Regions from separate parts of the Homo sapiens genome. Here all the other regions are linked to region 3. Evidence: fine-mapped expression QTL. A gene starts in region 3. Each other region holds a variant in brackets. All regions are shown on one strand. Distances are from middle to middle. Region 1 overlaps ZNF511-PRAP1 (ZNF511-PRAP1 readthrough). Region 2 overlaps ADAM8 (ADAM metallopeptidase domain 8). Region 3 holds the start of TUBGCP2 (tubulin gamma complex component 2). Region 4 overlaps ZNF511-PRAP1 (ZNF511-PRAP1 readthrough). Region 5 overlaps ECHS1 (enoyl-CoA hydratase, short chain 1). Region 6 overlaps MTG1 (mitochondrial ribosome associated GTPase 1).

Region 1 (4,800 bases), 34 kb before region 3:
TAGTGAATCTGACCTAACCGACTCCACCTTGCTTCTAACCTCCAACCTGTCCTTGTTCATTCCTGGGTGTAGGTCACACCAACTTTGGGAGGATCTTAGTTTATAGTTTAATGTTGAAACAAAGATGAAAACAGCCCCTTCCTGAACAAACCCCCTTCTTGCCTGGGGACCAGACTGCCTTTGTAAAACTAACAAATTAGTCACAAGATTAGAAATTATGGTTTAGGAAACTTCTAGTGGCTTGAGGTATCGGCCGGAGCGGCCGGGTGGCGGGAGGAACCGTTACGGGAACTGAAGTTGCCGATTAAGCCTGATCAAGATGCCAACCTCCCAAAAGCACCGAGACTTCAGGGCAGAGCCCATGGGGGAAAAGCTAGTGGGGAGCCTGGCCAGGATTGGTGAAGTCCTGGGCAAGAAGCTGGAGGAAAGGGGCTTTGACAAGGCCTATGTTGTCCTTGGCCAGTTTCTGGTGCTGAGGAAAGATGAAGACCTGTTCCGGGAATGGCCAAAGGACTCGTGGTGCCAACACCAAGCAGTCCCGGGACTTCGGATGCCTTCGAGAGCATGCGATGCCTTCTTGTGATGCTCTCCAGGAAGCTCTCAATCCCCAGCCCTCACCCAGAGTTTGTAGCCGAGTCGGGACTCCTCCCCTGTCCTCTACAAAGGAGAAGATTGCTATTGTCATACTCACGTCTGACGCACTCTGGGTCTTTTGGGAGTTTTCTCCCCTAACCATTTCAACTTTTTTGGACTCTCACTCTTGCATGTCTCCCCCTTCCTTTTTCACTTTCCCTGGTGACAGTTACCAGCTTTCCTGAATGGATTCCTGGCCCCGTCCCTCACCTCCACCCTCACTTTCAGTCCATTTGATACTATTTGGCTCCTTTTTTGGCAGAACAGTCACTGTCCTTGTAAAGTTTTTTAGATCAAGAAAGTCAGTGGCTTTCATGAAAAATAAAAAAGAAATTATGTTTTAGGTGTCAGGCAGGACCGGGCGCGGTGGCTCACGCCTGTAATCCCAGCACTTTGGGAGGCCGAGGCAGGCGGATCACGAGGTCAGGAGATCAAGACCATCCTGGCTAACATGGTGAAACCCCGTCTCTACTAAAAATACAAAAAATTAGCCGGACGTGGTTGCAGGCGCCTGTAGTCCCAGCTATTCGGGAGGCTGAGGCAGGAGAATGGCCTGAACCTGGGAGGCGGAGCTTGCAGTGAGCAGAGATCACGCCATTGCACTCCAGCCTGGGTGACAGAGCGAGACTCCGTCTCAAAAAAAAAAAAAAAAAAAAAAAAAGGAGTCAGGCAGCTGGAGGCCACAAGATTCTAAGCCTCCCCAATTATTCTTAGGGAAAACATCACTATTGTAAATCCTAAGATTGGTGCTCGAGACATTTTTCGGACTCTGAACTTGGTGGAACAGCTGGTGCCACCCAGATCCATGAACTGGCTCACCTGGTCTTGTGGCCCCCACTCAGGAAGTGACTCAGCACAAGAGGACAGATTCGACTCCCTGTGATTTCATCTGCAACCCAACCGATCAGCACTCCCTGCTTCCCAACCCCTACCCACCAAATTATCCTTTAAAATTTGAGTAGTGATAAAGCTCCAGCCTCCCGTTCAGCCGGCTCCGCGTGAATTAAACTTTCCGTGTTGCAGTTTCTCTCTGCCCTGATAAATCGGCTCTCTCTGGGCAGCAAGCAGAATGAGCCTGTTGGGCAGCTACACTCCCACCCACCCCTCAGTGGCCGAGTGGCTCCACGGGGGAGGCAGCAGAAGGCCAGTGGCTCAGGGAACTGGGGTCCCCAAGGGGATTATGAGCAGTGATTGGCAGGCCAGCCCGAACTTGAATGGGGTGATCAGGTCTGGAATGAGAAAGGCACAGGGAGCCTCCCCAGGTTCCCACACAGTCCCAGCTGACCTCCCCATTCCTCTGGCCCAACACAAGTCTGTGCATTCACACTCAGGAGACGGGAGACAGCCGGTGGGAAGTAAAGGTCGGGCACCTTAAAAACTGCATCCACACAGAGCGTGGCCCCCAGCCCACCCTTGAGGCACCAGCAGAGTGGGTCCCGCGGCCTGAGCACAGCCTCCAACCACACAACCCAGTGTGACTCAAGGAAGATAGGCTTAAAAAACTGGGCGGAGACACCAGGCCACGTGCTACAGGGGAAACAAAGTCCACAGATTTCAACAAAACAGCAACAACAACCCTTGGGAGAAAATATCAGAACTCAAAATGTTTGCAATATATTATCTAAAACATCTAGTCTTTAGTAAAATGAGACGAGGTCCCCAGGCTCGTCTCGAACTCCTGGGCTCAAGCAATCCTCCCACTCAGGCCTCCCAAAGTGCTGGGACCACAGGCATGAGCCACTGTGACTAGCCTGTTGTATATTTTAAATTAACAAAAAAGAGTGGAATTAGAATGTTAGCACAAAGAAATGATACAATCTTGGGGTTATGGATACCCCAATTATCCTGGTTTGATCATTACATATGGCATCCGTGTACCCCATGGATATATATACCTATTATGTACCCATAATAATTAAAACTTTTTAAAAATTAAAAATAAAGGGCCAGGTGCAGTGGCTCACGCCTGTAATTCCAGCGCTTTGGGAAGCCGAGGCGGGAGGATCACTCGCGGTCAGGAGTTCGAGACCACCCTGGCCAAAATAGCGAAACCCCGTTTC[T/C]ACTAAGAATACAAAAATTGGCTGGGTGTGGTGGCAGGCGCCTATAGTCCCAGCTACTAGGGAGGCTGAGGCAGGAGAATCGCTTGAACCCGGGAGGCGGAGGTTGCAGTGAGATGAGACTGCACCACTGCACTCCAGCCTGGTTGACAGAGTGAGACTCCATCTCAAAAAAATAATAATAAAACTAAAAAAAAGAAAGAAAAGGACTTATACCCAGAATATAAAAAGAACTCTTACAACTCAACAATAAAAAGACAAACAACCCAACTGAAAAATATTCAAAACATTTGCACAGACATTTCACCATAGATGATTTACAAATGGTGACTCCACCCTGAGAAGATGTTCAGCACCACTTGTCACTAGGGCGACGTGGACTCAAGCCACAGCTACACTCCTATAGGACGGTGTTATGGGCTGTGTCCCCTCTAAATTCATACATTGATGTCCTAACCCCTCAGAATATGACGATATTTGGAGATGGGTTTTTAAAGATGTAAGTAAGGTAAAGCAAGGTTATTAGGGTGGACCCTAATTCAACAGGACTGGTGTCCTTATAAGAAGAGATGAGAACACACAGATACGCCAAAGGGAAGACCATGTAAGGACACGGGGAGGTGTGGCCACCCACAAACCCAGGGAGCAGCCTCAGGAGGAGCCAACCCTGCCAACAGCTCCAACCCTGCCGACAGCTCCGTCTCAGACGTCAGCCTCCATCGCTGTGAGAACATGAATTTCCATTGTTGAAGCTGCCCAGTCTCTGGCAATTTGTTATGGCAGCCTCAGCTAAGACAGATGGCTAGTATAAAAAAGACAAAATCAAGGATCAAGAGTTGGTTGCTGGGCACGGTGGCTCACGCCTGTCATCCCAGCACTTTAGGAGGCCGAGGCGGGTTGAGACCATCCTGGCCAACATGGTGAAACCCCATCTTTACTAAAAATACAAAAATTAGCCAGGCGTGGTGGCATGAGCCTATAGTCCCAGCTACTTGGGTGCCTGAGGCAGGAGAATCGTTTGAACCCGGGAGGTGGAGGTTGCAATGAGCCAAGATCGTGCCACTGTACTCCAGCCTGGCCAGAGGGAGACTGTCTCAAAAAAAAAAAAAAATCAAGAGGTGGTGAGGATGTGGAGAAACTGGAACCCTCCTATACTGCTGGTGGGAATGTCACATGGTACGGCCACTTTGGAAAAACACATTTTAGCATTTTCTTTCAAAGTTAAATGTCAACTTTCCATCAAATTTGGCAATTCCACTCTTCAGTAACTACCCAAGAGAAAGAAAAGCACACGTCCACCAAGGTTGTGATAAGAATGTTCACCACAACATTATAAACAGCTGACAAACTGGAAACAGTTCATACGGATGAATGGATGAAACCTGGAGAATCCATGGGTTAACAGCAATAATGGCCGGGCGTGGTGGCTCACGCCTGTAATCACAGCACTTTGGGAGGCCAAGGCAGGCGGATCACCTGAGGTCAGGAGTTTGAGACCAGCCTGGCCAATATGGTGAAACCCTGTCTCTACTAAAAATACAAAAATTAGCTAGGCGTGGTGGCACACGCCTATAATCTCAGCTACTCAGGAGGCTCAGGCAGGAGAATCGCTTGAACCCCGGAGGCAGAGGTTGCGGTGAGCCGAGAACGTTCCATTGCCCTCCAGCCTGGGCAACAAGAGCAAAACTCCTCTTAAAAAAACAAAACTAAACTAAAACAAAACAGGTCGGGCGCAGTGGCTCACGCCTGTAATCTCAGCACTTTGGGAGGCCGAGGCAGGCGGATCACGAGGTCAGGAGATCGAGACCATCCTGGCTAACATGGTGAAACCCCGTCTCTACTAAAAATACAAAAAATAATTTAGCCGGGCTTGGTGGCGGGCGCCTGTAGTCCCAGCTACTCGGGAGGCTGAGGCAGGAGAATGGCTCGAACCCGGGAGGCAGGGCTTGCAGTGAGCCAAGATTGCGCCACTGCCCTCCAGCCTGGGCGACAGACCGAGACTCCGTCTCAAAAAAACAAAACAAAACAAAACAAAAAGACAGTAGTAACAACGGGTTACCGTTCAGCGTGGATGAAACGCGGCATGTCCATGAGTTAACAGCGGGAACAA
Region 2 (4,800 bases), 46 kb after region 3:
GGCGTGGAGGTAGATGGGGCAGAGGCTGCAGCAGGAACAGGCGTGGAGGTAGATGGGGCAGAGGCTGCAGCAGGAGCTGCGCGTGGAGGTAGATGGGGCAGAGGCTGCAGCAGGAGCTGGGCATGGAGGTAGATGGGGCAGAGGCTGCAGCAGGAACAGGCGTGGAGGTAGATGGGGCAGAGGCTGCAGCAGGAGCCGGGCGTGGAGGTAGGTGGGGCAGAGGCTGCAGCAGGAACCAGGCATGGAGGTAGATGCGGCAGAGGCTGCAGCAAGAGCCGGGCGTGGAGGTAGATGGGGCAGAGGCTGCAGCAGGAACAGGCGTGGCAGTAGATGGGGCTGAGGCTGCAGCAGGAACAGGCGTGGCAGTAGATGGGGCAGAGGCTGCAGCAGAACTGTGCAGGAGGGAAGTCACTCACTCTTCACTCTCACGGGCTTCCCCTGGCTGCTCAGTAGGGTCCTTTGGAAGCTGCTGAAAACTGCAAATGCTTAGCCCACCCAGGCTCCGTGTGACACAGCCAGGAGTGAGCTCCACAGCTCTGTGTGGTGGACATCCAGCCTCCCTACCCTGGGAAAGCTGAAATGCAAAGAAACACGTGTTTTAGTAGCTAATTATTGGCCTTTGAGCTTCCAAAACCCCACATTCCGGCAATCTGTAGAGCTCTTCAGGCCAGGCGCATTGGCTCATGCCTGTAATCCCAGCACTTTGGGAGGCTGGGGCGGGAGGATCACTTGAGCCCAGGAGTTCAAGACCAGCCTGGGCAACATAGGGAGACCCCGTCTCTACAAAAAATAAAAAATTAGCTGGGTATGGTGGCTTGTGCCTGTCGTCCCAGCTACTCAGGAGGCTGAGGCGGGAGGATCGCTTGAACCCAGGAAGAGGAAGCTGCAGTGAGCCAACATCACGCCACTGCACTCCAGTCTGGGTGACAGAGGGAGACCCTGACTCAAAAAAAAAAAAAAAAAAAAAGGAAAGGAAAAAAGCTCTTGGAGGGTAATATGGGGGTTGGTTAGGGGATGTGGATGGTGTACTGGGCAGGTGGGCCCAGGATGGCGTTCTGCCACTGATGGGCTTTATTCCTGGGCAGTGGCAGCCAGGAGGGCTTTTCTGTAGCGAGCTCAGTGGGGGCGGAGCCTGCAGGCTCCCTGGGGGGCAGAGCGAGGTCTGTGGGGAGCTTCGTTCCAGGTCCAGAGAAGGTGATGTCCAGGCTAGAGCCGGGAGTGCCTGGGGGACCCATGTCAGCTGTGTCTGTTTCCTCCCAGGTCATCAAGCCAACGTTCGCACCCCCAGTGCCCCCAGTCAAACCCGGGGCTGGTGCGGCCAACCCTGGTCCAGCTGAGGTGAGGCCCCAGCACACACCAGGCAGAGTCCACTGTGCAATGGACGGCACGGCCTCCCCACGGGGCTGACGGTGGCACTGCCCTGGAGGGTGGGGTTTTTTTCTGATTATCTGTGGATAAACTTGGGTGACTGAAAGAAAAGGGAAAGGCATTGGCAGTGGCTGTACTGTGGTATCTGTGCTGTGATCAGGGGACTTCTCAGCAGATGCCGACCCCGGCTGTCAGTGGTGCCTGACCTTCCCCCAGCAACTGCAGGGAAGAAAGTCTGTCCTCTGTGAGCTGTATATATTGTGACTGCCACACCTGCCATTGTGTGCATGGGCCATGTTGTTGGTGGATGAACCAAGAATCCACATTTTAAGAGATGTTAAAGGACGTAAAATTTCGTTGTACCCTTTATATACCTTTTATAGCAGGTAGTTTTTCAACATCAATTATCTTTTCCTCCTCCCAGGGTGCTGTTGGCCCAAAGGTTGCCCTGAAGCCCCCCATCCAGAGGAAGCAAGGAGCCGGAGCTCCCACAGCACCCTAGGGGGGCACCTGCGCCTGTGTGGAAATTTGGAGAAGTTGCGGCAGAGAAGCCATGCGTTCCAGCATTCCACGGTCCAGCTAGTGCCGCTCAGCCCTAGACCCTGACTTTGCAGGCTCAGCTGCTGTTCTAACCTCAG[G/T]AATGCATCTACCTGAGAGGCTCCTGCTGTCCACGCCCTCAGCCAATTCCTTCTCCCCGCCTTGGCCACGTGTAGCCCCAGCTGTCTGCAGGCACCAGGCTGGGATGAGCTGTGTGCTTGCGGGTGCGTGTGTGTGTACGTGTCTCCAGGTGGCCGCTGGTCTCCCGCTGTGTTCAGGAGGCCACATATACAGCCCCTCCCAGCCACACCTGCCCCTGCTCTGGGGCCTGCTGAGCCGGCTGCCCTGGGCACCCGGTTCCAGGCAGCACAGACGTGGGGCATCCCCAGAAAGACTCCATCCCAGGACCAGGTTCCCCTGCGTGCTCTTCGAGAGGGTGTCAGTGAGCAGACTGCACCCCAAGCTCCCGACTCCAGGTCCCCTGATCTTGGGGCCTGTTTCCCATGGGATTCAAGAGGGACAGCCCCAGCTTTGTGTGTGTTTAAGCTTAGGAATCGCCTTTATGGAAAGGGCTATGTGGGAGAGTCAGCTATCTTGTCTGGTTTTCTTGAGACCTCAGATGTGTGTTCAGCAGGGCTGAAAGCTTTTATTCTTTAATAATGAGAAATGTATATTTTACTAATAAATTATTGACCGAGTTCTGTAGATTCTTGTTAGATCAGCGGGGAAGGATGGAGGGCTTCAGTTCACGAGATACAAGGGTCGGCGCTTGGTAAAATGCAGACTGCGAATAGATGAGGTCAAGCCACCTTCTTTTCTCCCTGGATTTCTCAGGCCCTCCCCAGCGTAACTAAGCAGTCCCGCCCCTCCCGCGGGCAGACGATCCGATCCAGGAACCCACGCCCAAGAAGACTTCGCCGCGATGCACGGAGGAGCCCGCGCTACCCCTGCCCCGCCCCGTCTCCGGGCAATGGCCCGGCCCCGCCCCCGCCCCGTCTCCCGGCAACGGCCCCGCCCGCGCCCCGCCCATTCCGTCTCGTCTCCCGGCAACGGCCCCGCCCGCGCCCCGCCCATTCCGTCTCGTCTCCCGGCAACGGCCCCCGCCCGCGCCCCGCCCATTCCGTCTCGTCTCCTGGCAACGGCCCCGCCTCTTCCGGCCCCATGCCCTTGTCCGGGCCACTGCCCCGCACCCCCCCCGCCATGCTGGGCTCGACCCCGGCCCCGCGCGGCCTCCACGCCTGGCTGGACGCGCTCCCGCTCAGCCACCCACGCGCCGCCTGGCCCGGGACCTCAGCTATGGCGGTGGGCGCGCGTCCGCGAAGTCGTGGAGTCCGAGGGGCCCCCGCGGCAGGGGCCTGCGCCCTCGGCCCAGGAGAAGCGGCGAATGGCCCGCGGCGCCCCTCCCGGTTGCTCGCTGACCCCCCCGCCCAAGAGTCTGGGGCTGCGAACCCCGCTTCGCCTTTGCTGCATCCGACTCAGCCTTTCAGATCTGTAGGATCCGGGACTCCAGTGTCCGACTACAGGGCGGGGCTCACGGCCCACACGCGCCGCAGTACCCCGCCCGATGCGCACGTTCCCTCTGGGCACCCCCTGGGAGCGTCCCCGTGGTGCCAGGCTGGCGCGCTGGCCTCTGAGGAGGTGGCTTCTGCTCTAGGCACCTGAGCAGCAAGTCTGAGTGGGCGCCCACGGGGCGGAGGCTGTTAGACGCATCTGGTGCTGCACCGAGGAGGCCTGACGTCCCCTGTGGCCAAGCCCCCACACCCATGGGTGCTGCCTCCGGGTGGCTCCTCCGAGGCAGAGCCCTGAGCTGATAGCGCCCATTCGTCTCGCAGGCCTGCCACGCCCCCAGCTCCCTTCAGCACGAAGAATGAGAGCGTTCTGGAGGGGACAGGCCACTGCACTTGCAGAGGGTGGGTTCCTGTCTCTCAAGCCCATACCTCCCTTCCTCCCGATCTCCCCAGCCTCCGCCGCCCACCCCATTTCCTCGACAGTTGGATTCAAGGCTGGTGTCTACCTTGTAGTGGGGACCCAGCCGCCGGGCGCCAGAGCACCCAGACCCCGGAGTCCAGCAGCTACTGGAGGACAAGGAGCAGGCGCTGTCCTTTCCGCAGGAGACAGTCAGGGTGCAGGCGACCTGGCACCCTTGTTGCCGGGACACCCTGTGGCTGAAGGACTGGGAAACAGGGCCTGTGCGGAGCCTTGCAGAGAGGGCATGGCCTTCATTTTCTCCAGCCCTCCCCAAAATGCAGACATTTGCTGAGTACCTGTGGGCACCAGCTCTTATCACCTGGCGGTGCTGGCTGGCAAGTCTGCCTGGCTGCCCTCCAGCCAGAGCCGAGCCCCTTCTCCCATCCCCAAATGCACAGAAGACAGCCAGAGAGCCAGGGTCCTGGGCAGCACCTGCCCAGCCCAAGACTCCACATGAGCACTTAGATATGCAGTGCACACCTGGCTCTCTGCACACACCTGGTTCTCAACAGACACCTGGCTCTCCATGCACACCTGCTCTCAGTGCACACGCGGCTCTGCAGTGTACACCTGACTCTCTGCACACCTGACTCAGTGCACACCCGGCTCTGCAGCGCACACCTGACTCTCTCTGCACACCTGGTTCTCAGTGCACACCCGGCTCTGCAGCGCACACCTGACTCTCTCTGCACACCTGGTTCTCAGTGCACACCCGGCTCTGCAGCGCACACCTGACTCTGCACACTTGGTTCTCAGTGCACACCTGGCTCTCTCTGCAGACCTGATTCTCCGTGCACACCTGGTTCTCAGTGCACACCTGGCTCTCTCTGCAGACCTGATTCTCCGTGCACACCTGGCTCTCTCTGCACACCTGGTTCTCAGCGCACACCTGCTCTCAGTGCACACGCGGCTCTGCAGTGTACACCT
Region 3 (4,800 bases):
CCAGCATTGCACGGTTTTTCTCCTTAAAATGATCCCTCGGAAAGGAGACAATTACTTTACACGTAAGTCTTTGTAAAGCCTCCCACATTGCAGTGGGTTCTCCCAGTTCTTTTATTTTAAAGAGCAAATTACTACTTGAGAAAATGTAGAGTCTGAAAAACTCTGATCAATAAAATTGTAGATGATTATGAAAGTTCACCTCATCAGTTAAAAAAAGAAGAAATATAACACAATTTAAAAATTGTTCCGGCTGGACATGGTAGCTCATACCTACAATCTCAGCACTTTGGGAGGCTGAGGCAGATGGACGGCTTGAGCCCAGGAGTTCACGACCAGACTGGGCAACATAGCAAGACCCTGTCTCTACAAAAAATAGAAAATTTTGCCGAGTGCGGCGATGCGTGTTGGTAGTCCTAGCACTTTAGGAGGCTGAAGTGGGAGAATCGCTTGAGCCTGAGAAGTGGAGGTTGCAGTGAACCTACATCACACCACTACACTCCAGCCTGGGTGTCAGAGCAAGACCCTGTCTCAAAAAAAAAAAAAGATTGTTCCTGGAAGTATTTCCCAGAGTGCACTCTAGGCAGGAACATGTTAATCAACAGCTTTGTCATCAAGTTCATATGCGCACAACCAACCAGGACAAAAGGAAAGCCAGGGCTGCATGATGTGTGAGCACGGCCGACGGCTGCAGGAGGTACAGACACGGCCCCGAGGGGTGTGAGTGCGGATGACCACGGCCGACTGCTGCAGGAGGTACAGGCATGGCCCAGAGGGGTGTGAGTGCGGAGGCGCTGCGCCCGCTCATTCCCACACCCCCTCTGCTGCCTCCACCGGCACAGAGCTGGGCAGCCAGGGGCTCCCCTCCAGCCTCCCTTCGGCAGGGTGGCCGCTGGCACAACCACCTGTAGCTGTGTTGCCAGGGCTTCAGGTACCTGCAGGTGAACACCCCATTAGGTGACACACAAGTGCTTAATAAGTCTGACCGTCTATGCATTCCGGCTAGTTGGAAACCTTTTCCTAAAATCAAAAGCAGACACGTGCTGAGCCTGGCGGCTCCCTACCTTCTGCTTTTCTTTGGCTTATCAAACCGGAAGTCCGCGGGGTACAGGTGCATCCTCACCATGTGATCCTTCCGGTCTCTGCTGGTCTTGAACTTCTCTGTGCAGCCTTCTACCAAGCACTGATACTGAAATGGAGACCGTGTCACCTCCCTCTGACCCCTGGCCCTCCCCCACCGCCATGCCCCCGTAGCAGAGCTGCCAAGGGCGGAAAGGTGTCCCCGGCCTTGCCCGAGCACCCGAGAGCTGGGGGCAGCACTCTGAGCCCATCACCAATGGGGGGTGGCCTCGGCGGCTGTGCAGTTGTCACCCACCATGTCCTGCCTCTCAGACAGGATCTGGAAGAGCGAATCGTGCCACTCCAGGATGTGGGCGTCCAGCAGGTGTCCGGAAGGGAAGGCCCGCTTGCAAAAGGAGCAAACATTTCCGTGCAGCGTGTGGTAGTGGTGCTCGTAGTCGTCCAGGGCATCGAACACCTGGCAGCAGCCGGCCACCTGGCAGGCAAACGCGGGCACCCTGCCAAGGAGACGTGCTTCAGGAGCCCTTCCTCCGGTGCGAGGAACCAAGCTGGACTTTCTGCACAGTTTCCCTTTGAGACGTCCAATAAAGCCCCTATGCATCTTTTGCAATCCCAAACCCTCTTTTTATGAATTAAGTTTCACAAACAGGCTAGGTGGTGGAAGAGTCGGCCACGCCAAAGCTGGACAGGCACAGCGCCTCGGTGGGGCGGCCGCACATGGAAGAGCGGCAGCACAGCCCCAGGGACCAGGCACCGGTCAGGGAGGCGGCGCAGGAGTAGCACTGGCTAGGCACTGCCCATTCGCTTACCTGGGCTTCTCAGGCACGTCGGCCACCTGCATGATCACGTCCTGGAGGTAGAGGTGGCGCTGCACGTCCCCATCCTGCAGGAAAAGTGCGCCGTGGGCGGGGCCAGGTGACTCGCGGCACGCCCACCGCGTCAGGCCTCGCCCACACCCGTGGCCCCAGTCATCCCGCGCTCCGGTCCCGCCCCACAGCCTCAGGCCCCGCCCACTCCACGTTCCGGCCCCGCCCCACCACCTCAGGTCCCGCCTGTCCCAGGCTCCGGCCCCGCCCCGCAGTCGTAGGCCCCTCCCACTCCAGGCTCCGGCCCCGCCTCGCCGCCGTAGGCCCCACTGGATCCTACAACTACTTTTTCCCTCTTTTGCTCACGCACCTCGAAGAACTGGTGCTCCCGCGGGAAGCGCACGGGGCGCGCAACGAAGCGAAAGGGCGCGGCCCCAGCCGCGGGATCCCGCTCTACAGGCAGCGGCTCCGCCGCCCCGGGCCCCGCAGCGAGGCGGGCGCACAGCGCGGGGGGCAACTGCATCACCCCGGGCGCGGGCGGGCGCAGCCTGTCGGCCACCGTCCGCGAGCCGAGCCGGACGTGACGTCACGCTCACTTCCGCCGCCGTCGGGGGCTGCGCGGGGGCTGTGGCTCCGGGACTGCGGTGAGTCCTGGCCGAACGCGGGCGCGGGCGTGATGAGGGGGTTGGGGGACTGCCAGGCCCGGGGGGGCCCACGAGGCGACGGGGCTGGCGGGACGCGGCTCTTCCCGCGCGCTCCCTCTGGCTGTGCAGCGGTCCCCGAACTCTGGGGCCGAAGCCCTTCGGGCCTGCACCGGCCAGGCCAGCGTCTTGCCCCGCGGCCCGACACTCAGCCGGGGCGGGGCGGAGCGGGCCTCCGGGTCGTCCCGGGTGTCCCCTCCCAGCCCTGGGAAGCCGGGTCGCAGGTCCCCCTCTCGCACGCCCTCTCCCGTCCGCCTTGCCCCGCCTGTCGTCTCCCGCTGCAGTCCCTGGATCTTGTTCCCTCTAAACCAGTCGCGAACTGGAGCCAAAGTGACTCCAGTTTTATTGTAACCGTTTTTAATTTAAAGCCCTTGGGTGACTTCCCGTTACTTTAGTTCAAAGGCCCTTTCCTGGTTTGTCGGGGTCCTGTCGACCTCTCCAGTCCCCGCAGCTCCCGTGAAACACAGGACCTGTGCTAGGTGCTCAGGGCGTGTGGGGGAAGGCATCACAGGAGGGCGCGGCAGCCTTGTAGGAGAGACAGACGTCAGAGTAAAGAGTCACCTAATTAAAATGGTGAATGACAACACACGCGGGAAGCAGTGGACGCTTCAGATCTACTGCAGAGAATGGGCCCAGTGGCGGATAGAGGCTTTAGCTTTCTCGTCTGTCACCCAGGCTGGAGTGCAATGGTGCGATCATAGCTGATAGATCGCTGCGGCCTCAAATTCTTGGGCTCAAGTGGTCCTGCTGCCTCAGCGTTCCAAAGAGCTGTAACTGCAGGCGTGAGCCACCATGCCTGCCCCTGTACTTTTTCCATGTTTAGATACACAAATATCTCTGTGTTACAGTTGTCTAGTGTTCAGCACCGCCACCTGCTGGGCAGGTTTGTAGCCCACGAGCAAGAGGCTCCTCTAGGTGGTTTAGGTGCATTGTAGGCCGTACACCATCCAGGTCTGCGAGTGACTCTGATGATCGCACAGAAGGAAATCATGTAACCATACGTTTCTCTTTTTTTCTTTTGGAGATAGTGTCTCTCTCTGTCGCTCAGGCTGGAGTGCAGTGGCGCGATCTGGGCTCACTGCAACCTCTGCCTGCTGGGTTCAAGCGATTCTCGTGCCTCAGCTTCCCAAGTAGCTGGGATTACAAGTGTGCGCCACCAGGCTTGGCCAATTTTTGTATTTTTGGTAGAGACTGGTTTTCACCATGTTGGCCAGGCATTTCTCAGAATGTTGAGTGATGCATGACTGTACTTTCTGTCTCTGTAAAAGCCTTTGGGCTCTTGACATTTTCCACAAGTTGTAAAATAACATTTTTCAAACCAATTTGTACAGTTAGCTTTGAGCTCTCAACAGAGACTCTTTTTCACGTCCCTCTGTGTTTTAATCACTTGGAGTGTGTGCTCACTAGGAGTGTGTGCCCCGCTTGTCCGTGGTGGAGTGTGACATGCGTGCATTGCTTCCCTCAGCACGCGTCCCTGCGGTAGCTCACAGCCTCTGTGAGGAGGACGTCAGTCCCTCCCAGTCACAGTTGCTGGGCCTGTCAGTTTGTGTGATTAATAGTAAGAATTCAGGAGCATCAAGAAGGCCAAGTCAGCGGCCATGGCTAGACGTTCCTCCAAGAAGCAGCCACGGCTAGATGTTCCTCAGAGCTGTGTTTTCAGTGGGACGCTGTGCATTTCTGGCGGGACAGCTCTGTTGATGATTAGCATCCCCCGCCCTTGCCCTCTAAGTAGCGAGAGCACCCTTCCATGACCGTGACACCCCAGAGTTGCCCTAGGACTTTTCCAAAGGTCTTCTGGGGGGAGGGACTCTGTGCGAGTACGGGCTGCCCTCTTGGAGGCCCGGTCCCCACATTCAGGGAGAGCAGCAGGCTCCTCATGGGATGAACACTCATGACGTGCGGGCATCTGTGCTTCTATTTCTAGAAGAGATACGAAGTTTCCTGAAGGTAGTTTTTATTTTTTTTATTATTATTTTTTGAGACAGAGTCTCGCTCTGTTGCCCAGGCTGGAATGCAGTGGTGTGATCTTGGCTCACTGCAAGCTCCGCCTCTCGGGTTCATGCCATTCTCCTGCCCCAGCCTCTGGAGTATCTGCGACTACAAGCGCCCGCCACCACCCCCGGCTAATTTTTTTGTATTTTTAGTAGAGATGGGGTTTCACCATGTTAGCCAGGATGGTCTCGATCTCCTGACCTCATGATCCGCCCACCTTGGCT
Region 4 (4,800 bases), 23 kb before region 3:
GCACTCTCGCCCACGCAGATCCTTCCCCCTCAGTTCTTTCCCCACGCAGAAGCTGCCACCTCCAAATCCTTCCTCCCCTGATCCTTCCCCCTTCAGATCCTTCGCCCCTCAGATCCTTCTCCCTCATGTCCTTCCCCCTCAGAGCCTCCCCCTCAGAGCCTTCCCCCCTCAGAGCCTTCCCCGCTCAGATCCTTCGCCCCTCAGATCCTTCCCCTCATGTCCTTCCCCTTCAGAGCCTCCCCTTCAGAGTCTTCCCCCCTCAGAGCCTTCCCCGCTCAGATCCTTCCCCCCTCAGATCCTTCGCCTTTCAGATCCTTCCCCCTCATGTCCTTCCCCCCTCAGAGCCTTCCCCCCTCAGAGCCTTCCCCCCTCAGAGCCTTCCCCGCTCAGATCCTTCCCCCCTCAGATCCTTCGCCTTTCAGATCCTTCCCCCTCATGTCCTTCCCCCCTCAGAGCCTTCCCCCCTCAGAGCCTTCCCCGCTCAGATCCTTCCCCCCTCAGATCCTTCGCCTTTCAGATCCTTCCCCCTCATGTCCTTCCCCCCTCAGAGCTTCCCCTTCAGAGCCTTCCCCCCTCAGAGCCTTCCCCCCTCAGATCCTTCGCCCCTCAGATCCTTCCCCCTCATGTCCTTCCCCCCTCAGAGCCTTCCCCCCTCAGAGCCTTCCCCGCTCAGATCCTTCCCCCCTCAGATCCTTCGCCTTTCAGATCCTTCCCCCTCATGTCCTTCCCCCCTCAGAGCCTCCCCTTCAGAGCCTTCCCCCCTCAGAGCCTTCCCCGCTCAGATCCTTCCCCCCTCAGAGCTTCCCCTTCAGAGCCTTCCCCCCTCAGAGCCTTCCCCCCTCAGATCCTTCCCCCCTCAGAGCCTTCCCCCCTCAGATCCTTCCCCCCTCAGAGCCTTCCCCCCTCAGATCCTTCCCCCCTCAGAGCCTTCCCCCCTCAGATCCTTCCCCCCTCAGAGCCTTCCACTCTCAGATCTTTCCCCCTCAGAGCCTTCCACTCTCAGATCTTTCTTTCCCCCTCAGAGCCTTCCACTCTCAGATCTTTCCGCCTCAGAGCCTTCCACTCTCAGATCTTTCCCCCTCAGAGCCCTCCCTCTCAGATACCTCCGCTCTCCGACCCTTCCCACCTGGGATCCTACCCCACTTGGATCGTTCCCCAAGTCGGATTCTTCCCCCCTCAGATCCTTCCACCCTCGGATCCCTCCCCCTGCGTCGGATCCTTCCCCCCGCGTCATATCCTTACCCCTTCGGATCCCTCCCCGCACCCCGTTGGGGTCCCTTCCCTTCAGATCGTTCCACCCTCGGACCCCTCCGCTCGGATCCCTCCCCTCCACCCCACCCCCACCCGCGCAATCCTTCCCCGTTGGGTCCCTCTGTCCTTGGATCCCTCACCCCTCGGATCCTTCCCCCCCCCCCACCCCCTCAATCCTTCTCCCTCGGATCCTTCCACCTTGCAATCATTCCACCCTCAGCTCCTTCCACCCTTAGATTCTCCTCCACGCAGATGCCTCCACATTATCTGTACTTGAGTGGCAGCAGCTGGGCAGAAGCTCTGTGACCGCGGGTCCCTTGCTCCTGTTCCCGTGGTGCCTACCCACACCTGGAACCCACAGCGGAGCCTGGCCACTGCAGGGCGAGAAAGACTGGTCACTGCTGGCTCTGGCAGTTAATTGGACATCCTCGCGCTGCTGTCACAAATTACAAGCAGGTGGCTTAAAATAACAAATTCTTTCACAGTTCTGGAGTCAAGAAGTCCAAAATGAAGGTGTTCACGGGGCCATGCTCCCTCCAAAGCCTCTAGGGGAGCTTTTTCCTTGCTTCCTCCAGCTTCTGGTGGCCCAAGCAATCCTTGGGTTTCAGCTGCATCGTTCCAATCTCTGCTCCGTCTACACATAACACTCTCCTATGTCTAATTTCCCTGTTTTAATAACGATACCAGTTTTGGGTCAAGGCCCACGCTGATTCAGGACGA[G/A]TTTATTTTAGCTTGATTACATCTGCAAAGACCCTATTTTCAAATAAGATCCCATTCAAAGGCACCCCTCACTCAGATCCTAGGACTTGGATGTATTTTTGAGGGAACATCATTCAACCCACAATGCACCCTCATCATTTGTGGGTTGCAACTGTCTTCTCCCAGTCTTGGTTTCTGCTTCCATTTTTTGAAGGCTGTTTTGATAAGCAGAAGTTCATAGTTTTAATGAAGTCATTTTATCAATATTTCCTTTTATGGTTAGTACCTATTGTCCTAATGAAGAAACATTTCCCTCCCTGAGACCAGAAAAATCTTCTTCTGTATTATCTTTGAGATGCTTTATTGTTTTGCTTTTCCAGTTTAGGTTTATCCACCTGGAGTAGACTTCTCTGTGTAATGTGAGGTAGGGATCAGGCTCATTGCTCTTGATGTGGACAGCGGTTTACTGAGAGGCAGCCATGCTGCAAATCAGGGTCTGTGTGTGCAAAGTGTGTCACGTGGGACTTTTTCCACCACGCAGTAGCCCCACACCTCTCCATTTCCAATGCTGTGCAACAAGCTAGACCCTGGCAGATGAGACCTCCTCCATGTTCTTTTTTTTTTTTTTCCCAGACGGAGTTTTGCTCTTGTTGCCCAGGCTGGAGTGTGGTAGTGCAATCTCAGCTCGCTGCAACCTCTGCCTCCCAGGTTCAAGGGATTCTCCTGCCTCAGCCTCCCGAGATTCTGGGATTATAGGCGTGTACCACCATGCCCGGCTAGTTTTTGTATTTTTAGTCGAGACAGGGTTTCACCATGTTGGCCAGGCTGGTCTCAAACTCCTGATCTTGTGATCCACCCACTTCTGCCTCCCAAAGTGTTGGGACTACAGGCGTGAGCCACTGTGCCTGGCAATCCATGTTCTTTTCCAAGATACTTGATGTGTTCCTGCCCCTCTGCCTTCCATATAAAATGACAGTGCTTGTCAAGTTCATTTTAAAAACCCTGTTGGGATTTTGCTTAAGATTTACTGCATCTACAGATTGGGGGGTGGGTAATTTGTTTAAACATAGAAACTCCCAAAATCCATAGCCACAGCCTTCCCCATTTACTTGGGGAATTTAGCTTTTCTTGGTCTCTGTCGACAGTGTTTCCTGGATTCCATGTGAAGGCCCTGCCCTGTCCCTGCTCCTCAGCTCTTTTTACACCTATTCCTGAGGATTTGATAGTTTTGATATTATTTAAATTGAGTACTTCAATAAATTATTTATTTATTTATTTTTGCCACTGACATATAGGAATGTAACTGATTTCTGAATACCTTAAATCCAACAACCTTGCCAAACTCACTTTTTGATCCTTATGATTTGTCTATATATTCTTTTGGGGTTTCTAAACACAGACACTGTTTCATGGGTGAATCAATCAGAGTTTTACTTTTTCTTGTCTGGCACTGGAGCTCTTTCTTTGTCCTGCCCTACAGCATTGGCTGAGACCTCCAGCACCATAACTTGTAGAACCGCAGATCGAGGCACTTTCAGGATTCACATTCAGTGAGGTTTGCTGTGGGGATTTAGTGGTTCACTGTTACCGGGTTACAGCACTCGCCTCCTGCCTTAATGCACTAATGGGTCCGAGGAATAGTAAATGAGCCCTGAGTCTTACCCAGAGTTACTTCTGCTCCTCTAGCAATTGATCAGATAACGCTTTTTCATTATTCTGTTAATATGGTGAAAAATATGATTGCTTGTCAAATGTTAAGCCAAACTTCATTTCCAGAATACACCCAAACTGTCATGATATGTTACCTTGTTGTATTCGCTGGATTCACGCTGCTTGAGCTTTGGGGCCTCGCAGTGGTGTGTACGTGTGGCGGGGGCTGGCCTGTGAGCTCCTCTCCGCTGCTGTCCTTGCTGGGTTAGGGACTGAGGCTACGTTGGCCTCAGGAGCTGGTGAGTGCTCCCTTGTCTTTCTGGAAGAGTTTTGTGGACGTGCATTACTTTCCCTGTAAATGGTTGGTAGAATGCTGTGGTGATGCTGTCTGCGCCTGGAGTTCTTTGTGAGAGAAGGTTGTAATGACAGATTCCTTTTTTTTTTTTTTTTGAGACGGAGTCTCTCTCTGTCACCCAGGCTGGAGTGCGGTGGCGCGATCTCGGCTCACTGCAAGCTCCGCCTCCCAGGTTCACGCCATTCTCCTGCCTCAGCCTCCCAAGTAGCTGGGACTACAGGCGCCCGCCACCGCGCCCGGCTAATTTTTTGTATTTTTTAGTAGAGACGGGGTTTCACCGTGTTAGCCAGAATGGTCTCGATCTCCTGACCTCGTGACCCGCCCGCCTCGGCCTCCCAAAGTGCTGGGATTACAGGCGTGAGCCACCGCGCCCTGCCTTTTTTTTTTTTTTTTTTTTTTTTTGGCAGAGTTTCGTTCTGTCACCTAGGCTGGAGTGCAGTGGCGTGATCTCGGCTCATTGCAACCTCCGCCTCCCGGGTTCAAGCGATTCTCCCGCCTCAGCCTCCCGAGTGGCTGGGACCACAGGCGCCGCCATAGCACCGGGCCACAGGTTCCGTGTCTACTGCACACAGGACCTTTCTTTTCTCCTTTGATTGATTGAATACATTTTCTTTTTCTGCTTTTTCCATCCATCAGCTCGGAGGTCATCCGCTGCATTCCTTTTCTCTAGAAGGTCCGCCTGAAGGCGAAGCCGGGCACCCTCGGCTTCTCTGGGTTAGTGGGGCCCGCCCTCTCCCAGCCCCGCGGGGCCCTGCTGTGGCTTTCAGCTCCGCAGGAGACCCGCTCTCCGCGGCCTTTAGCGCCAGGCTCGCAGCTGGGCTGACTCGCGGGTGCCCTCTTGTGGC
Region 5 (4,800 bases), 55 kb before region 3:
ACTGCCTTTTGTTTCTACATTTTGAAGTACTGTATGTACGGAAGTGAACCACACGTAAGTATCTGGTACAGAATAACAGCCCAGCAATTGCGTCCCCAAAATGCAGTGTAAGCAATGGGCATCTCCAGGCCTCAGTGGCCGGTCCTCCCACTGCCCTGTTGGTGATCACAGTCCCCGTGTCTGGCCGCCTCTGCCGTCGGAGCTGTGGCCAGCCTGGCCCACATGTCTGAGAGCACAGTGACCGCAGTGCCGAGATCACTCAGCACTCAGGAAGGGGCACGTGCGGCACTTCCCGTGTGGAAGCCGCCCTTGCTTAGCGTCCAGAGGCTGGGGTGCTCCAGCCACGCTGCTCCCCAGCGGCCACTCACTCGAGAAGGGATAGACAAGTGCTGTTTCTGCACATCACTCACTGACTTTCTTGTGTTTCAGGTCTTGTCAGCAAGATTTGTCCTGTTGAGACACTGGTGGAAGAAGCCATCCAGTGTGCAGAAAAAATTGCCAGCAATTCTAAAATTGTAGTAGCGATGGCCAAAGAATCAGTGAATGCAGGTAGGGGATCTGCCAGGAAGACACTGGAGAGGTCTCCGTGGCTGTCAGGAGCATTCCTCAGCAGCAGGCTTTCTGGCTCCAAATGAATATGCCTTAAGCCCTCCTGGGCAGAAATGCTTCTCAGTGTCTCAGTTCTGCTGTCTGTAGAGTCGTGGTTTCTGGTCACGCACTCAGGAACTCCGCTGAGATGTTCCCAGCTCCCCTTTGTACCAGGGCCCAAGAACTGAGCCAGGCCTGGGAGGTGAGGGCAGTACAGAGCTGGCAGTGGCAGGGAAAGGCTGAGAAGGGAGCAGAGGTCCCAAATGTAAAATGGTCTCTGCCATGGGGAGGCTCGGTTCACCTCCCGAGACCTGGGGTTGGCGGCTGCGTGTGCGCCTGGCAGGTGGCTACGCAGGCTTGCAGCCCAGCACCACGCTGTTCGTTCTTGGCCTGGATCCCTTTTAGTTCTCCCTCTGCCAGGGAAGTGGATCTGAACCTCCCCCTCCTCAGAAATGCTCAAGTTTTAATGTCACAATTTATTCTCAGCATGTGGAATGAGATGGTTATTAGCTGGTTGAGTCCGGACAGGTGTGGGTGGCCCCAGGCAGGTCCCCTAACCTCTCTGAGTGCATTTATCTCGAGGGTGTGGCCGTCCCCCGGGCTTGCCGTTGGCTTGAGGCAGGATACAGTGAGGAGAGCATTTTGAAAGAACGGAGGCTGCTGTCGCCCGAGGTGTTTGGCAAGGTCGTGCTCCCCTGGGAGAGGATGCTGGCACCAGCCCTGGAGCCACAGCGCCTGCCTCCATCTGCGCACCTGGATCTGCTCTGCTTGGCCTCGTGCAAAGAACGGGCCTGGAATGAGCAGAGCCAAAGGCGTTCTTGGTGCCGGCCGCGCCCAGCTCTGGCTCTCGTGCTGTCCTTCCTGGTTTTCATCCTTGGTTATTTTTCTCTGTTTGCAGCCCCGTTGCCGCCTCACAGCCTCTCCTCAAGGGCACAGTTTGCCATCTCACCTTTCATCCAGTTCCTCTCCCTTCTTGGGGCCGTGGGCTACCGGAGTGTGACGTTTGGGGGCCATAGCAGAGCTGTTGGTTCTGCCAGGTCTCCGCTGGGGCAGTGCCTTTGAGAAGGGCGGCACCATGGAAGCCTGTGCAGGGCTGGGCCACGTCGAAAGCACAGTTGTGCATGGGTCAGTGAGGAGGGCTTCCTGTCACCGTGCAGGAAAAGTTCTGCATGTAATATCTCCGTTCATAACTCTGGGACTTTGTTTTTCAGCTTTTGAAATGACATTAACAGAAGGAAGTAAGTTGGAGAAGAAACTCTTTTATTCAACCTTTGCCACTGTGAGTAAACAGTGTTCAACCGGAGAATCAAGCAAATTCCAGTCACACAAGTTGCTGGGAATTTCCTTTTAAATTTTATCATTAAGTATCGTTTCTTTCTGGTCAGAACTGCCAGCCTCACCTTTAACGGGATCAGATTGGTTCCATCAGTGGGTCTTGATGTTAGGAAAAAAGTAGAGCATGTACAAGTTCAAAAGTACAGAAACCTTACAGGGGCTTTTCTTGTTTTTCCTGTTATGTGAGGTCTGTGAATTGCACCCTCAAGCAGCTCCTTTATTGAAAATGCAGTTTCAGCCGGGTGGGTGTCGAGCATCCGTAGCCCCAGCTTCCTGGGAGGCTGAGGCGGGTC[G/A]TTCGAGTCCAACTGGGCAGCAAAGCAAGACCCCGTCTCAAAAAAAAGACTTTTTTAAAAAATGAGGCCGGGCGCGGTGGCTCACCCTGTAATCCCAGCACTTTGGGAGGCTGAGGCGGGTGGATTGCCTGAGCTCAGGAGTTTGAAACCAGCCTGGGCAACATGACGAAACCCGTCTCTACTAAAAATCCAAAAAATTAGCCGGGCGTGGTGGCAGGTGCCTGTAATCCCAGCTACTCTGGAAGTTGAGGCAGGAGAATCGCTTGAACCCAGAGGCGGAGATTACAGTGAGCCGAGATCACGCCACTGCACTCCAGCCTGGGAGACAGAGTGAGACTCTGTCTGAAAAAAAAAATGTAACTCATTTTACCCATGTTTTTTTAGATCATTCCAATTATTTGGAATAGGCTCAAATGTATTCTAATAAGATAAGCTGAAGCTTTAGAGCAATATTTTATAAGATTTCTGCCAGTAACTTAAAGTAATTCCTCTAATTACCATCATAATTTTAATTTTCTTCCCTTTGAGGCAGAGTCTTGCTCGGTCGTCCAGGCTGGAATGCAGTGGTGAGATCTCAGCTCACTGCAACCTCCACCTCCTGGGTTCAAGTGATTCTCCTGCTTCAGCCTCCCGAGTAGCTGGGATTACAGGTGCCCACCACCACACCTGGCTAATTTTTGTATTTTTAGTAGAGACAGAGTTTCACCATGTTGGCCAGGCTGGTCTTGAACTCCTGACCTCAAGTGATCTGCCTGCCTCGGCCTCCCACAGTGCTGGGATTATAGGCGTGAGCCACTGCACCCGGCCAGATTACCATTTTAATTCATGTCTTTCACTGGGAGAAAGTCATACTTCGGTGTTTTAATTGTTCTATAAAATAAAAATTAAAAGTGGTTTGGGCACCTGAGGAAGGGGTACAGATGCGTGTGTGTGTGTGTGTGTGTGTGTGTGTGCGCGCGCGCACACCTGGGGACACACGTGCACACAGTGTAAGAAAAGCAGATGCAGAGTTGAGTTCTCACGTCCTACTCCAACACAGAGTAGCCCCTGATACAGGCCACCCATCATCCAGTTGATGACATGGTGAGTGACCAAGATGGGTGCATCTGAGGCTCTTTAGATGTGAGCTTGTTGGACATACACAGTGGCTCCTGAATGACCGTCACCTAGACTGGTAGAGAGAGGCCGTGAAAATCCCCGCGCCCAGGCCCAGCTCTGATTGGGCAGGTGTTCCTGCCGCTGAGTCCCCTCCCCGGCCCCCTGGGCCCCTGTGAGCATGAGTGAGGCAGAGCCAGGGAGAGACGGGCGGACATTGGCATCAGGCTCTGTGAGGATACTGCGCGTCCAGCTCTGTTTCTGTTCCTTTTCCTGCCAGGATGACCGGAAAGAAGGGATGACCGCGTTTGTGGAAAAGAGAAAGGCCAACTTCAAAGACCAGTGAGAACCAGCTGCCCCTGCTTCACACCTCTGCTTGGAGAGGACAAGTGCAGCCTGTCAGTTTTAGAAGCAAGTAAATCATCCTCTTTTCAAGAGCAGTGTCCGTGGTGTGCAGTTCCTCTCCAATTGCTGCGTGGTCGTGGCCCGACCTCTCACGGCATGACAGCCTTCGTCACCCAGCCTGTGAGGGTCCTGACTGGAGCACCTTCTAAATCTAAGATTCTGCTGAGGAGCCCCCGCTGGTCCCTCTGGGCATGCTGTGCTCGGACGGAAAGCGGGGCCTGCGGGTCCTTGTGTCCCTGCCGCTGAAGAATGGGGCTGCTCTGAGGGAAACGCTGTCTGCTGCCTTCATACAGATGCTGATTAAAGTGATAGCGATTCAGATTACACCACGCCTTGTAGTCATGTCTGCAATGAGCATTCTGTCATGTTAGTTGTTTTTTTAAACTTTTTTGTTTTTTCACTGTAAGGAACAACATTCAAACAAAACAAGTTTGTATAGTCAGTTGCCTCACATCATACTTCCAGGGTAGCCACTGTGAACAGCTGGGCTTGTGACTTCCTAGAGTTCTGTGCACGCACCCACACACCCCTGCACACGGGCACAGGCATGGTCTATGGTTTTCTTCCACGCCCACTCACGTCGAGCCCTTTCCTCACGAGAGCCCACCCTATTTTCTTCCTACTTCTGTCATAAGGAGCTCTCTGTTCAGTTTACTGCATTCTTCTCTACTGTGGGAACACACGACGTCAACTTGATCATCTTAACCACTGTGTTTTAGAGACGGGCTGGAGTGCGTGGCTCAGTCACAGCTCACTGCAGCTTGAATCTCCTGGGCTCAAGTGATCCTCCCCCCCTCCCAAGTAGCTGGGACCACAGGGGCGCACTCCCACACCCAGCTGACTGTTTAAATTTACCTTTTGTAGAGACGGGGTTTCCCCGTGTTGCCCAGGCTGGTCTGAACCATTTCAAATGCACATTTCAGCGGCATTAAGTACGTTCTCGTTGTGCAGCCATGACTATCCAAGAAAGCTTTCATTTTCCCAAACGGAAACTGTCCCCGTTAAACAACAACCCCTTTTCTGCTTCCCTCCAGCTCCTGGCACCCACGCTTCTACTTCCTGTCTCTATGGAGGGACCTCCATT
Region 6 (4,390 bases), 96 kb before region 3:
AGAAGAATACTGTTAAAATGTCACCACCCAAAGCAATTTACAGATTTAATGCAATCGTTATCAAAATAGCAATGACACTCTGCAAAGAAATAGAAAAACAATCCTAAAATTTGTATGGCACCACTAAAGGCCCCAAACAGCCAAAGCAAACCTGAAGCAAAAAGAACAAAGCTAGAGGCATCACACTACCTGACTTCAAAATATTCGTAGTAACCAAAAACAGCACGCTACTGGCATAAAACACATACACAGAACAGTGGAACAGACCAGAGAACCCAGAAATACATCCACACATTTACAGCCAACTCATTTTCGACAAAAGTGCCAAGAACATACACTGGGGAAAGGACAGTCTCTCCCATAAAAGGGTGCTGGTTAAACTGGATAACCACAGGCAGAATGAAACTAGACCCCATCTCTCACAATATACAAAACCAAATCAAAAGGGATTAAAGACTTAAATCTGGCCGGGTGCGGTGGCTATTACAGGCCAAGGCAGGTGGATCACGAGGTCAGGAGTTCAAGACCAGCCTGGCCAAGATGGTGAAACCCCATCTCTACTAAAAATACAAAACTTAGCCAGGTATGGTGGCGGGCACCTGTAGTCCCAGCTACTTGGGAGGCTGAGGCAGAGAACTGCTTGAACCCAGGAAGCAGGGGTTGCAGCGAGCCGAGATCGTGCCACTGCACTCCAGCCTGGGTGACACAGTGAGACTCCTTCTCAAAAAAAAAAAAAAAAAAGACTTAAATCTAAGACCTGAAACTTCAAAACTGCTAGAAGAAAACGTAAGGGAAACGCTTCTGGAAATTGGTCTGGGCCAGATTTTTTTTGTATAAGACCTCAAAAGCACAGGCAACAAAAGCAAAAATAATAATAATAATAATAGGCAAATGTAAAAAAATTTACATCAAGCTGAAAAGCTTCTGCACAGCAAAGGAAACAATCAGCAAGCCAGGCATGGTGGTACGTGCCTATAATCCCAGCTACTTGGGAGGCTGAGGCAGGAGGATCTCTTGAGCCCAAGAGTTCGAGGCTGCAGTGAGCTGTGATCGCACCACTGCACTCAGCCTGGACGGCACGGCAAGACCCGAAGCAAGAAACGAAACTATCAAAGCACTGACAAGATAATCTACAGAATAGGAGAAAATATCTGCAAACTACTCAACAAGGAATTAATAACCAGATTATATAAGCAATTCAACTCAACAGCAAAAAAAACCACATAACTATTTAAAAATGGACAGAAGATCTGAATAATTATTTCTCAAAAGAAGACATACAAATGGCCAACAAGTGTATGAAAAAATGCTCAACATGACTAATCACCAGAGAAATGCAAATCAAAACCACAATGAGATTTCATCTCACCCTAGTTAAAATGGCTTTTATTAAAAAACACAGAGAATAGCAGATGCTGTTGAGGATGTAGAGAAAGGGGAGCTGTCGTACACTGTTGGTGGGAATGTAAGTTAGTACAGCTACTATGGAAAACAGTATGGAGGTTCTTCAAAACACTACAAATAGAACTGCCATAGGATCCAGCAATCCCACTACTGGGTATAGACCCAAAAGAATGGAAATCAATATACTGAAGAAATACTGCACTCCCATGCTCACGGCAGCACTACTCACAATAGCCAAGATATGCAATCTACCTAAGTGTCCATCAAAGGATGATGGATACAGAAAATGTGGTACATAAAACACAATGAAATAT[T/C]AGCCATAACAAAGGACGAAATCTTGTCATTTGCAGTAATACAAACAGAACTGGAGATCATTCTGTTAAGTGAAATAAACAGGCACAGAAAGACAAATAATGCATGTTCTAACTCAAATGTGGGAGCTAAAAACGTGGACTTCATTAAGACAGAGAGCAGACTGGTGATTACCAGAGGTGAGGGGAAGAGGGGATGGACAGAGGTTGATTAATGAATAGTTCGGTAGAGTGACTTCAGTTAACAGGAATCTACAGGATATTTCAAATACCAGAAGAGAGCAATTCAAATGTTTCCAGCATGAAGATAAATGTTTGGGATGATGGATATCCCAATTACCCTGATCTGATCATTACACATTGTATGAATGCATCAAAATATCATAGGTACCCTGAAAACATCTACTTTGTATCAAAAGATAAATCTTAGCATTAAAAGTTTAAAAAAGAGTTCAATATAAATCTTACAAAACACTGTAAACTACAAAACACTGCAAAGAAAAACTAAAGACCTAAATAAATGAAGAGATACACTATATTCACGGGTCAGAGACTCAGTGTTACAATATTGTCAATTCTTCCCCAGACTGACCTATAAATTCAGGGGAATCTGCCACCCGGCCTCAAGAAACATAGGGATTTTTGTAGAAACTGACAAAGTGACTGAAAAATGCATGAGAATACAAAGAACCAGGAAAAGACAAAGCAATTTTGACAAAGAAGAGTGGGGGCTACCAGCACTGCCTGATTTCAAATCTCATATTAAATTAGAAGCAGTTACCAAGACGGTCGGTCACACAGAAAAGTGACACAGTTAGAGTCCACAAACAGACCCACGTATATGGACAACCGATTTGCGACAAAGATGCAAAGACAATTCAGTGGAGAAAAGACAGTCTTTGCAACAAATGTTTCCGGAACAACTGGTTCTCCATGTGCAAAAAAAAAAGAACTTCAATCTGCAGCTTGTACCATATACCAAAAAATCAGAAAGGATCATAGCCCTAAATGTAAAACCTAAAACCATCTATCTTCAATGAGGAAACCCTTGTGACCCTGGTTTAAGCAAAGATTTCTTAGATATGACAACAAGAGTACTCTGGAAAAGATCTAGCTGATAAACTGGACTGCATGAAAATTAACAATTCTACTCCTCGGAAAACACTGTTAAGAGGGCTGAAAAGACAAGGCACAGACTTAAAGTATTTACAAACCGTATCTCTGATTAAGGACTTGTATCCAGAATATATTAGAAAAAGGTTACAGGCTGGGCATGGTGCCTCATGCCTATAATCCTAATGCTTTGGGAGGCTGAGGCGGGCAGATCCCTTGAGCCCAGGAGTTCAAGACCAGCCTGGGCAACATGGGGAAACCCTGTCTCTACAAAAAATACAAAAATCAGCTATGTGTGGTGGCACACGCCTGTAGTCTCAGCTACTTGGGAGGCTGAAGTGGGAGGATCGCTTGAGCCCAGGAGGTCAGGCTGCAGTGAGCTGAGACTGTACCACTGCACTTCAGCCTGGGTAACTGAGACCCTGTCTCAAAAAAAAAAAAAAAAAAAAGATTAAAACTTAGCAATAAGGAAAGAAACAACTCAGTTAAAAAAAAAAAAAGGGAAAAGGATTTGAACAGACATTTCCCCAGAGAGGGATGACAAATAAGCACATGAAGATGCTCAACGTCCCTGTCATCAGGGAAATGCAAATTGAAATGCTATGCGACACCCCTACACGCCCGCCCATCAGACAGGCCAAAGTTAAAGACTGATCTTAGAGAAACTGAAGGACTCATTCCCTGCTTGCCAGCATATAAAACAGTGTAACTACCTTGGAAAACAATGTGGCGGTTTCTTAAAAACTCAAACATATGCCTCCCCTATGATCCAGCCACTCTACTCCTAGGTATTAACCCAAGGGAAACGAAAGCCCGGATCTACACAAAGACCTGTCGGTACATGAATGTTCACAGCAGCTTTATCTGCAATAGCCAAAACCTGCAAACAACCCACATATCCATCAACGGGTGAAGGGACAGACTGCAGCGCACCTGGACACTGAAACCGCCTGGCAACAAAAAGGATGAATGACGGACAACACACGACGACACACGGGGATCACACAACAATCGTGCCGAGTGACAGATCAACAAGAATGCACATCCTGTGTGATTCCATCTACGTGGAATTCTAGAAAACCCAAAGCAACCTACAGGGACAGTAGACGGCTGCCTGGGCTCAGGGAGGGGCAGGAAGGTGTGATCACGAAGGAGCACAGGGACTGGGGGTGACGGGAACGCTCATTTCCTTGATTTCACGAAGGAGGAGCAGGGACTGGGGGTGACGGGAACGCTCATTTCCTTGATTTCACGAAGGAGGAGCAGGGACTGGGGGTGACGGGAACGCTCGTTTCCTTGATTTCACGAAGGAGGAGCAGGGACTGGGGGTGACGGGAACGCTCGTTTCCTTGATTTCACGAAGGAGGAGCAGGGACTGGGGGTGACGGGAACGCTCGTTTCCTTGATTTCACGAAGGAGGAGCAGGGACTGGGGGTGACGGGAACGCTCGTTTCCTTGATTTCACGAAGGAGGAGCAGGGACTGGGGGTGACGGGAACGCTCGTTTCCTTGATTTCACGAAGGAGGAGCAGGGATGGGGGGTGACGGGAACGCTCGTTTCCT

What was found. PIP is the estimated chance that this variant, and not a neighbour inherited with it, causes the effect.
Region 1: its variant is fine-mapped to the expression of TUBGCP2 in whole blood (INTERVAL, PIP 0.98).
Region 2: its variant is fine-mapped to the expression of TUBGCP2 in whole blood (TOPMed, PIP above 0.99).
Region 4: its variant is fine-mapped to the expression of TUBGCP2 in whole blood (TOPMed, PIP 0.97).
Region 5: its variant is fine-mapped to the expression of TUBGCP2 in whole blood (TOPMed, PIP 0.93).
Region 6: its variant is fine-mapped to the expression of TUBGCP2 in whole blood (TOPMed, PIP 0.96).

The regions. Positions count from the first base shown.
Region 1 is chr10:133,340,426-133,345,225 of GRCh38, reverse strand. All of the region lies in intron 5 of ZNF511-PRAP1 (ZNF511-PRAP1 readthrough), which reads right to left. It also overlaps the pseudogene BANF1P2. Among named protein-coding and RNA genes, the nearest start is that of PRAP1, 4.5 kb to the left of the region's middle. The variant T/C (reference allele first, on the strand shown) is at 2,694.
Region 2 is chr10:133,260,226-133,265,025 of GRCh38, reverse strand. It overlaps ADAM8 (ADAM metallopeptidase domain 8), which reads left to right. Exons shown (of 23, transcript NM_001109.5): 22 at 1,261-1,338; 23 at 1,793-2,603. The coding sequence ends at 1,870. Among named protein-coding and RNA genes, the nearest start is that of ADAM8, 14 kb to the left of the region's middle. RefSeq lists an enhancer at 1,726-2,702 and a silencer at 3,019-3,348. The variant G/T (reference allele first, on the strand shown) is at 2,007.
Region 3 is chr10:133,306,550-133,311,349 of GRCh38, reverse strand. TUBGCP2 (tubulin gamma complex component 2) reads left to right here and starts at 2,478. Exons shown (of 18, transcript NM_006659.4): 1 at 2,478-2,527. ZNF511-PRAP1 (ZNF511-PRAP1 readthrough) reads right to left here and starts at 2,436. Exons shown (of 9, transcript NM_001396060.1): 1 at 2,254-2,436; 2 at 1,887-1,960; 3 at 1,373-1,574; 4 at 1,062-1,186. The coding sequence starts at 2,406. It overlaps ZNF511 (zinc finger protein 511), which reads right to left and starts at 2,436. Exons shown (of 6, transcript NM_145806.4): 1 at 2,254-2,436; 2 at 1,887-1,960; 3 at 1,373-1,574; 4 at 1,062-1,186. The coding sequence starts at 2,406. RefSeq lists enhancers at 1,951-2,245, 1,653-2,348, 3,072-3,301 and a silencer at 1,992-2,841.
Region 4 is chr10:133,329,908-133,334,707 of GRCh38, reverse strand. The region is part of intron 5 of ZNF511-PRAP1 (ZNF511-PRAP1 readthrough); the gene reads right to left. The region is part of intron 1 of CALY (calcyon neuron specific vesicular protein); the gene reads left to right. Among named protein-coding and RNA genes, the nearest start is that of CALY, 4.6 kb to the left of the region's middle. RefSeq lists an enhancer at 4,483-4,562. The variant G/A (reference allele first, on the strand shown) is at 1,972.
Region 5 is chr10:133,361,725-133,366,524 of GRCh38, reverse strand. It overlaps ECHS1 (enoyl-CoA hydratase, short chain 1), which reads left to right. Exons shown (of 8, transcript NM_004092.4): 6 at 430-549; 7 at 1,800-1,867; 8 at 3,592-4,040. The coding sequence ends at 3,657. Among named protein-coding and RNA genes, the nearest start is that of FUOM, 6.1 kb to the right of the region's middle. The variant G/A (reference allele first, on the strand shown) is at 2,217.
Region 6 is chr10:133,403,017-133,407,406 of GRCh38, reverse strand. All of the region lies in intron 9 of MTG1 (mitochondrial ribosome associated GTPase 1), which reads right to left. Among named protein-coding and RNA genes, the nearest start is that of MTG1, 11 kb to the right of the region's middle. The variant T/C (reference allele first, on the strand shown) is at 1,719.